Regions from separate parts of the Homo sapiens genome. Here region 1 is linked to region 2. Evidence: fine-mapped expression QTL. A gene starts in region 2. The other region holds a variant in brackets. All regions are shown on one strand. Distances are between the middles of the regions. Region 1 holds the start of RINL (Ras and Rab interactor like). Region 2 holds the start of SIRT2 (sirtuin 2).

Evidence for each region.
Region 1: its variant is fine-mapped to the expression of SIRT2 in whole blood (TOPMed, PIP above 0.99).

Annotation. Positions count from the first base shown.
Region 1 is chr19:38,877,148-38,880,047 of GRCh38, reverse strand. RINL (Ras and Rab interactor like) reads left to right here and starts at 1,773. Exons shown (of 12, transcript NM_001195833.2): 1 at 1,773-1,816. SIRT2 (sirtuin 2) reads left to right here. Exons shown (of 16, transcript NM_012237.4): 14 at 346-416; 15 at 548-614; 16 at 738-1,488. The coding sequence ends at 893. RefSeq lists enhancers at 1,137-1,236, 1,277-1,396 and a silencer at 1,937-1,986. The variant A/C (reference allele first, on the strand shown) is at 1,319.
Region 2 is chr19:38,898,309-38,901,208 of GRCh38, reverse strand. It overlaps SIRT2 (sirtuin 2), which reads left to right and starts at 1,591. Exons shown (of 16, transcript NM_012237.4): 1 at 1,591-1,703; 2 at 2,784-2,830. The coding sequence starts at 1,688. NFKBIB (NFKB inhibitor beta) reads right to left here and starts at 1,240. Exons shown (of 6, transcript NM_002503.5): 1 at 998-1,240. The coding sequence starts at 1,176.

The DNA.
Region 1 (2,900 bases), 21 kb after region 2:
TTCGAGACCAGCCTGACCAACATGGTGAAACCCCGTCTCTACTAATAATACAAAATTAGCCGGGCATGGTGCTGGGCACCTGTCATCCAGGCTACTCGGGAGGTTGAGGCGGGAGAATCACTTGAACCCAGGAGGTGGAGGTTGCAGTGAGCCGAGATCACATCATTGCACTCCAGCCTGGGCAACAAGAGTGAAACTTTGTCTCAAAAAAAACCAAAAAAACAACAACAAAAAAAAAACAAAGTCACAGAGCTAGGATACAAACCCAGGCCACCTGGCTCCAGGGTCTGTGCTCTTAGCTCTCCCTTCCCTGCTCCTGCCCCTGACCCACCCCCTCCCTGACAGTCGGACCCTTTCCTGGGGATGATTATGGGCCTCGGAGGAGGCATGGACTTTGACTCCAAGAAGGCCTACAGGTGAGGCCCCGCCGGGGGTTGGGGCAGCCTGGAAGGGACAGGGTGAGGTGGGAGCGGGGGCACGAAGGCAGATGAGAGGAGCAGGCAGGGGCGAGCCCGCCTGGGAACTCTGATCTCCTGCTGCACCGCAGGGACGTGGCCTGGCTGGGTGAATGCGACCAGGGCTGCCTGGCCCTTGCTGAGCTCCTTGGATGGAAGGTGAGGAGCTGAGCAACCCCAGCCTGTCCTGAGCCCCATCCCTGGACCCTCTCCCCACCCCATGGGTCCTCTGACCCCATGATGCACAGTGACCTTTGACTTCTGTGACCTTTGCTCCTGCAGAAGGAGCTGGAGGACCTTGTCCGGAGGGAGCACGCCAGCATAGATGCCCAGTCGGGGGCGGGGGTCCCCAACCCCAGCACTTCAGCTTCCCCCAAGAAGTCCCCGCCACCTGCCAAGGACGAGGCCAGGACAACAGAGAGGGAGAAACCCCAGTGACAGCTGCATCTCCCAGGCGGGATGCCGAGCTCCTCAGGGACAGCTGAGCCCCAACCGGGCCTGGCCCCCTCTTAACCAGCAGTTCTTGTCTGGGGAGCTCAGAACATCCCCCAATCTCTTACAGCTCCCTCCCCAAAACTGGGGTCCCAGCAACCCTGGCCCCCAACCCCAGCAAATCTCTAACACCTCCTAGAGGCCAAGGCTTAAACAGGCATCTCTACCAGCCCCACTGTCTCTAACCACTCCTGGGCTAAGGAGTAACCTCCCTCATCTCTAACTGCCCCCACGGGGCCAGGGCTACCCCAGAACTTTTAACTCTTCCAGGACAGGGAGCTTCGGGCCCCCACTCTGTCTCCTGCCCCCGGGGGCCTGTGGCTAAGTAAACCATACCTAACCTACCCCAGTGTGGGTGTGGGCCTCTGAAT[A/C]TAACCCACACCCAGCGTAGGGGGAGTCTGAGCCGGGAGGGCTCCCGAGTCTCTGCCTTCAGCTCCCAAAGTGGGTGGTGGGCCCCCTTCACGTGGGACCCACTTCCCATGCTGGATGGGCAGAAGACATTGCTTATTGGAGACAAATTAAAAACAAAAACAACTAACAATCCGGTCTGGCCTCCTGTTTCTTTCTGTGGGCACCCAGGGAAATCTCTGAAGGGAGGGGGTTAGATCTTGGGCCACTAAGGAACCAGAAAGTCTCCGGGATCCAGAGTGAGGGGTAACAAGAGGGTCCTCACGGGGGCCCTCGTGGCTCTGACCCCTGGACTCCCAGCCTGCCAGTGTCCCTTCCTCTAAGCCCCGTCACTAAAGGCCTGAGGCCCCAGAAAGAGGGAGGAAAGTTGACTTCAGATACCCCAGCCCCGCCTCTTCCCCCTGCCTGCTCAGCTTCCTCTCTCCACTTCCTGCTACTGCAGGCCTCTCCTCCGAGAACAGGTAGGGCCCCCAGGAACCGAGCATCTGGCATCTTCAGCCCCTGCTGCCTCCCTTTGGTATGAGGCAGCTGCCCTGACCCACCCCTGCCACGCACTGCCCACAGCCTCCTCTCCTGCCACGGTACACAAGCAGGCATCTGCTTCCCTCTCCCCTCCCCTCCCCTCCCTTCCTTCCTGCTCTTGCCTGGGCAGGGCACCTGCGCCTCCCTGCCCACCTCCCTCCTTCCTAATAACACCCTGGCCTTCTGGTCAATGGCCTAATGTATTTGTTTAGCTGCCTATTATCCATATGCTACACCTGCCCCAAACAAGAATGGAAGGCCCTGAGGGGAGGAGCCTGTCCTGTTCATCACCCTCTCTCCAGGGCAGAGGCACCTAATTCCAGCCTGTATTCAGTAAATACTGGATGGATGGAAGGAAGGAAGGAAGGGAGGGAGGGAGGGAGGGAGGATGGATCCTCCCCCGATCCAGGTCTCCTGCTCCTGGGACTGCTGCTGGGATAAGTGCCACCCTAAGTGATAACCTACGTAGGACTCTGTACCTGGTTAGGAGCTGGGGCCTGATGGGTGGATGAAGAGAGAGAGGAACAGATGTGTGATAAAGCAAGATGAGTAAAATGTTCATGGTAGAATCTTGGTAGTGGGCATAGGGATGTTTCCTGTACAATTCTTTCAGCTTTTCTCTATGTCTGAAATTTTTCATAATAAAATGCTGGGGGAAGAGATTCAGTGGCCCCTCCATGGTGTGGGAAGGGAGGAAGAGGGGATGTTATTACCTTTCCAGATATAGGGACTGCCTACTCTGGGCCAAGAACTTTTCCAGGCGCTGACTGGGTTTTGCCAAGGGCTGGCCCACATTTACACAGCCCCCATGGCTGTTAAAAATCTTAACATATTTCCTACCACTTCAGTAAAGAGCTATTGTTTTGAGTCCTCTCCCCACACCGCAAGACACACTGGCCTCTCTCCTGGGATCCCCAGATTCCCCACCATCCGGTACTAAAGATTTAACCCCTGCCGGCCGGGTGTGGTGGCTCATGCCTGTAATCTCAGCACTTTGGGAGGCCGAGGCGGGGGGATCACTTG
Region 2 (2,900 bases):
CTGGTTGAGATCAATATTCAGTGCCTCCTGGATCAGGCCCTGCTTGCATCACTGGGCATACAGCAGTAAACACAACAGACAAAAAACCCAGTACAATCCCTCATCTGGGCCTTTGCAACTGCAGTTCCTTCTCCTTGAAATGCTCTTATCTTGTTTATCTATTGCCTCATTTTCCTGCTTTATTTTTCTCCAAAGTACTTAACTACCTCTGACTTTATTTCCTTTTCTTACTTTCTATGTTTCTTTCTTTCTGCGTGTCTTTCTTTGTTTCTTCCTGTCTTTCCATTTCTTTCCTTCCTTGTGGTCTTATCAATCTGTTTATTTAGCTCCACTAAAATGTATGCTCCACAAGGGCTTAAGTTTTTGTTTGTTTTCTTCACTGCCTTTATCACTAGCACCTAAACGGAGCCTGGAACGTGGTAATGTGTAAAGAATATTTGTTTAACAGATGAATCCTTGGTCTCATGGAGCTAACATTCTTTTTTTTAATTTTCCTATTTTTTTACTTTAATTAGGAATTCAACATAGAAGAGCTTACATTCTCTCTCTTTGAATTTAAGATTTGAAGAACACTGCTCAGAAGACAGGATCTTAGAGTCAGGGACCAAGTATTAATTTCGGAAATCAAACTCTAGGGCTCAAATCGGGAACTAAGAATCAAAGATCATATTTGGAGGTTAGAAGTCAGGAGAAGCCACAGTTCTAACAGAAGTCTCAGGACTGGAGTCAGGTTTGGGTATCAGTGGATACAATGTGGATTCCAGGAGCTGAGAATCATAGTTCAAGAAAAGAAGGTAAGAAATGATTGGGTTAGGATCATAGCTAGATAGAAGATTGGTTTTGTTAAAAGTTAGGACTCGGGGGTTAGAGGTCAGGAAGTTCAGCATCGGAAGTCAGATTTAGGAGTATGAGGTTAGGAAGCCTCAGGGATCAGAGATTAATGAGGAATGTGACGCCGGGTCCTAGGGCTCCGTTTGGCAGCCTAAGGTTCACTCACGTGTCCCCATCCTCAGTGACGTAGCCGAAGACGAGGGGAGCCCACGACAGCCCCGGGCCCAACTCCGCGCCCAACCCAGGTCCTCCGGGGGCCGCTGCGTCCGGACCCAGGGAGCCCAGGCCGCTGTCGCACCATTCATCTGCGTCGGCAGCTTTTCCCAAGCACGCGACCCCAGCCATGGCCCCCGCCGCCTCAGGGGCCCCCCGCAGTCGCCCGCCTGTAGCTGGGCTTTGCCGGGAGTTCTGGAGCTTCCGCCCTGCGGGAAATTCCCCACCACGCCCCCTGATTCACCCAATGATAATATGCTGAATCGCTCACACCCCGCCCTCGTACTGCATCCTGACCAATCAGAGTATTCGGGAGGACTACAACTCTCTAGCCGTTCCCACATTTTCCGGGCGCCCTTTACCAACATGGCTGCTGACGCCACGCCTTCTGGGACTCGTAGTCCGGTCCTCGCGCGCTTTCTTACCTAACTGGGGCGCTCTGGGTGTTGTACGAAAGCGCGTCTGCGGCCGCAATGTCTGCTGAGAGTTGTAGTTCTGTGCCCTATCACGGCCACTCCCATTTCTGGTGCCGTCACGGGACAGAGCAGTCGGTGACAGGACAGAGCAGTCGGTGACGGGACACAGTGGTTGGTGACGGGACAGAGCGGTCGGTGACAGCCTCAAGGGCTTCAGCACCGCGCCCATGGCAGAGCCAGACCGTGAGTCGGGGATCCGGGTAGGAGGGTCGGGCCGCGCCGGGGCCTGGCTGAATGCTGCAGGCCCCGGGGCCCAAGGGTGGCCGCGGTGGGGCGGGAAGTAGGGAGCGCTTCGGGGAGTGGGATTCTGAGGGCTGTTGCTTAGCGATCTGTATCGCTAGGCTGGTGGGTTTCTGGGTCGCAGTGTGTTCAGGGTTCGTTTACCACATCCACTTGCCAAGTTGCCAATGATCGCGTGTTTCTCGCACCTTGGTTGCTAAGGTCCCTCGCTGCAAAGAACATAAGTTGCCCCGGTCCCGCTTGCTATGGGTACCTGATTGTTAGAGGCAACCAGAGGATGCTGAGGGACCCCTGCTGACCCCTCCTATGGCTTCCCCTTGTTCCGCGCCTCTCCTAAACCTACCGCCTCCACTGCACCACTGCACCTCCCTCCTAAACCTGCCTCCCAGCCAAAGCGTCTCTTCCCTTCTCTTTTCCTTTCTAAACTTCCCTCTGCCTTGTAAATCTAACCCTCCCCGCACACACACTCACACACTGTCGTGTCCTTCCTAACTCCTCCTGAGTGTTCCTTCATGCCCTGAATCCCCTAGGTAGGAGGAGGAGGATCGCTTGAGCCCAGGAATTTGAGGCTGCAGTGAGCTATGATCGCACTATTGCACTCCAACCTGGGTGACATGAGCGAGACCCTTTCTCTAAAAAGTAAAAAAGAAAGAAAGTAAGTCAGGGCCAGAAACAATGGCTCATGCTTGTAATCCCAGTACTTTGGGAGGCCAAGGTGGTTGGATCGCTTGAGCCCAGGAGTTCAAGACCAGCCTGGGCAAAAGCCCCTACTTTCTCCCTGTCCCCCTAAATCTTCCTCTCCAGCCTCTCTGCCCCTCACTAATCACCTCTCCCGGCATCACTTTGCATGTAGATAAGATCTTTTCTCCGTCCCCTCCCTCCCTCTGCTCCATTTTTACCACCATCCCATCCCAGTGTAACTAGGTTGGTGGGTGTTCTTGCCCCCTCACTGACCATTTGAACCCCTTTATTCCCCCCTTAATCGTTCTCCCCACTGTAACCACCTCTGCTCCCCTCCCCCAGCCTCTCACCCTCTGGAGACCCAGGCAGGGAAGGTGCAGGAGGCTCAGGTGAGATGGGGGAAAGGGTGGAGGGGAGGAGAGAGACGGACTTGTTCCACATCCCACACTGGGGGGAGGT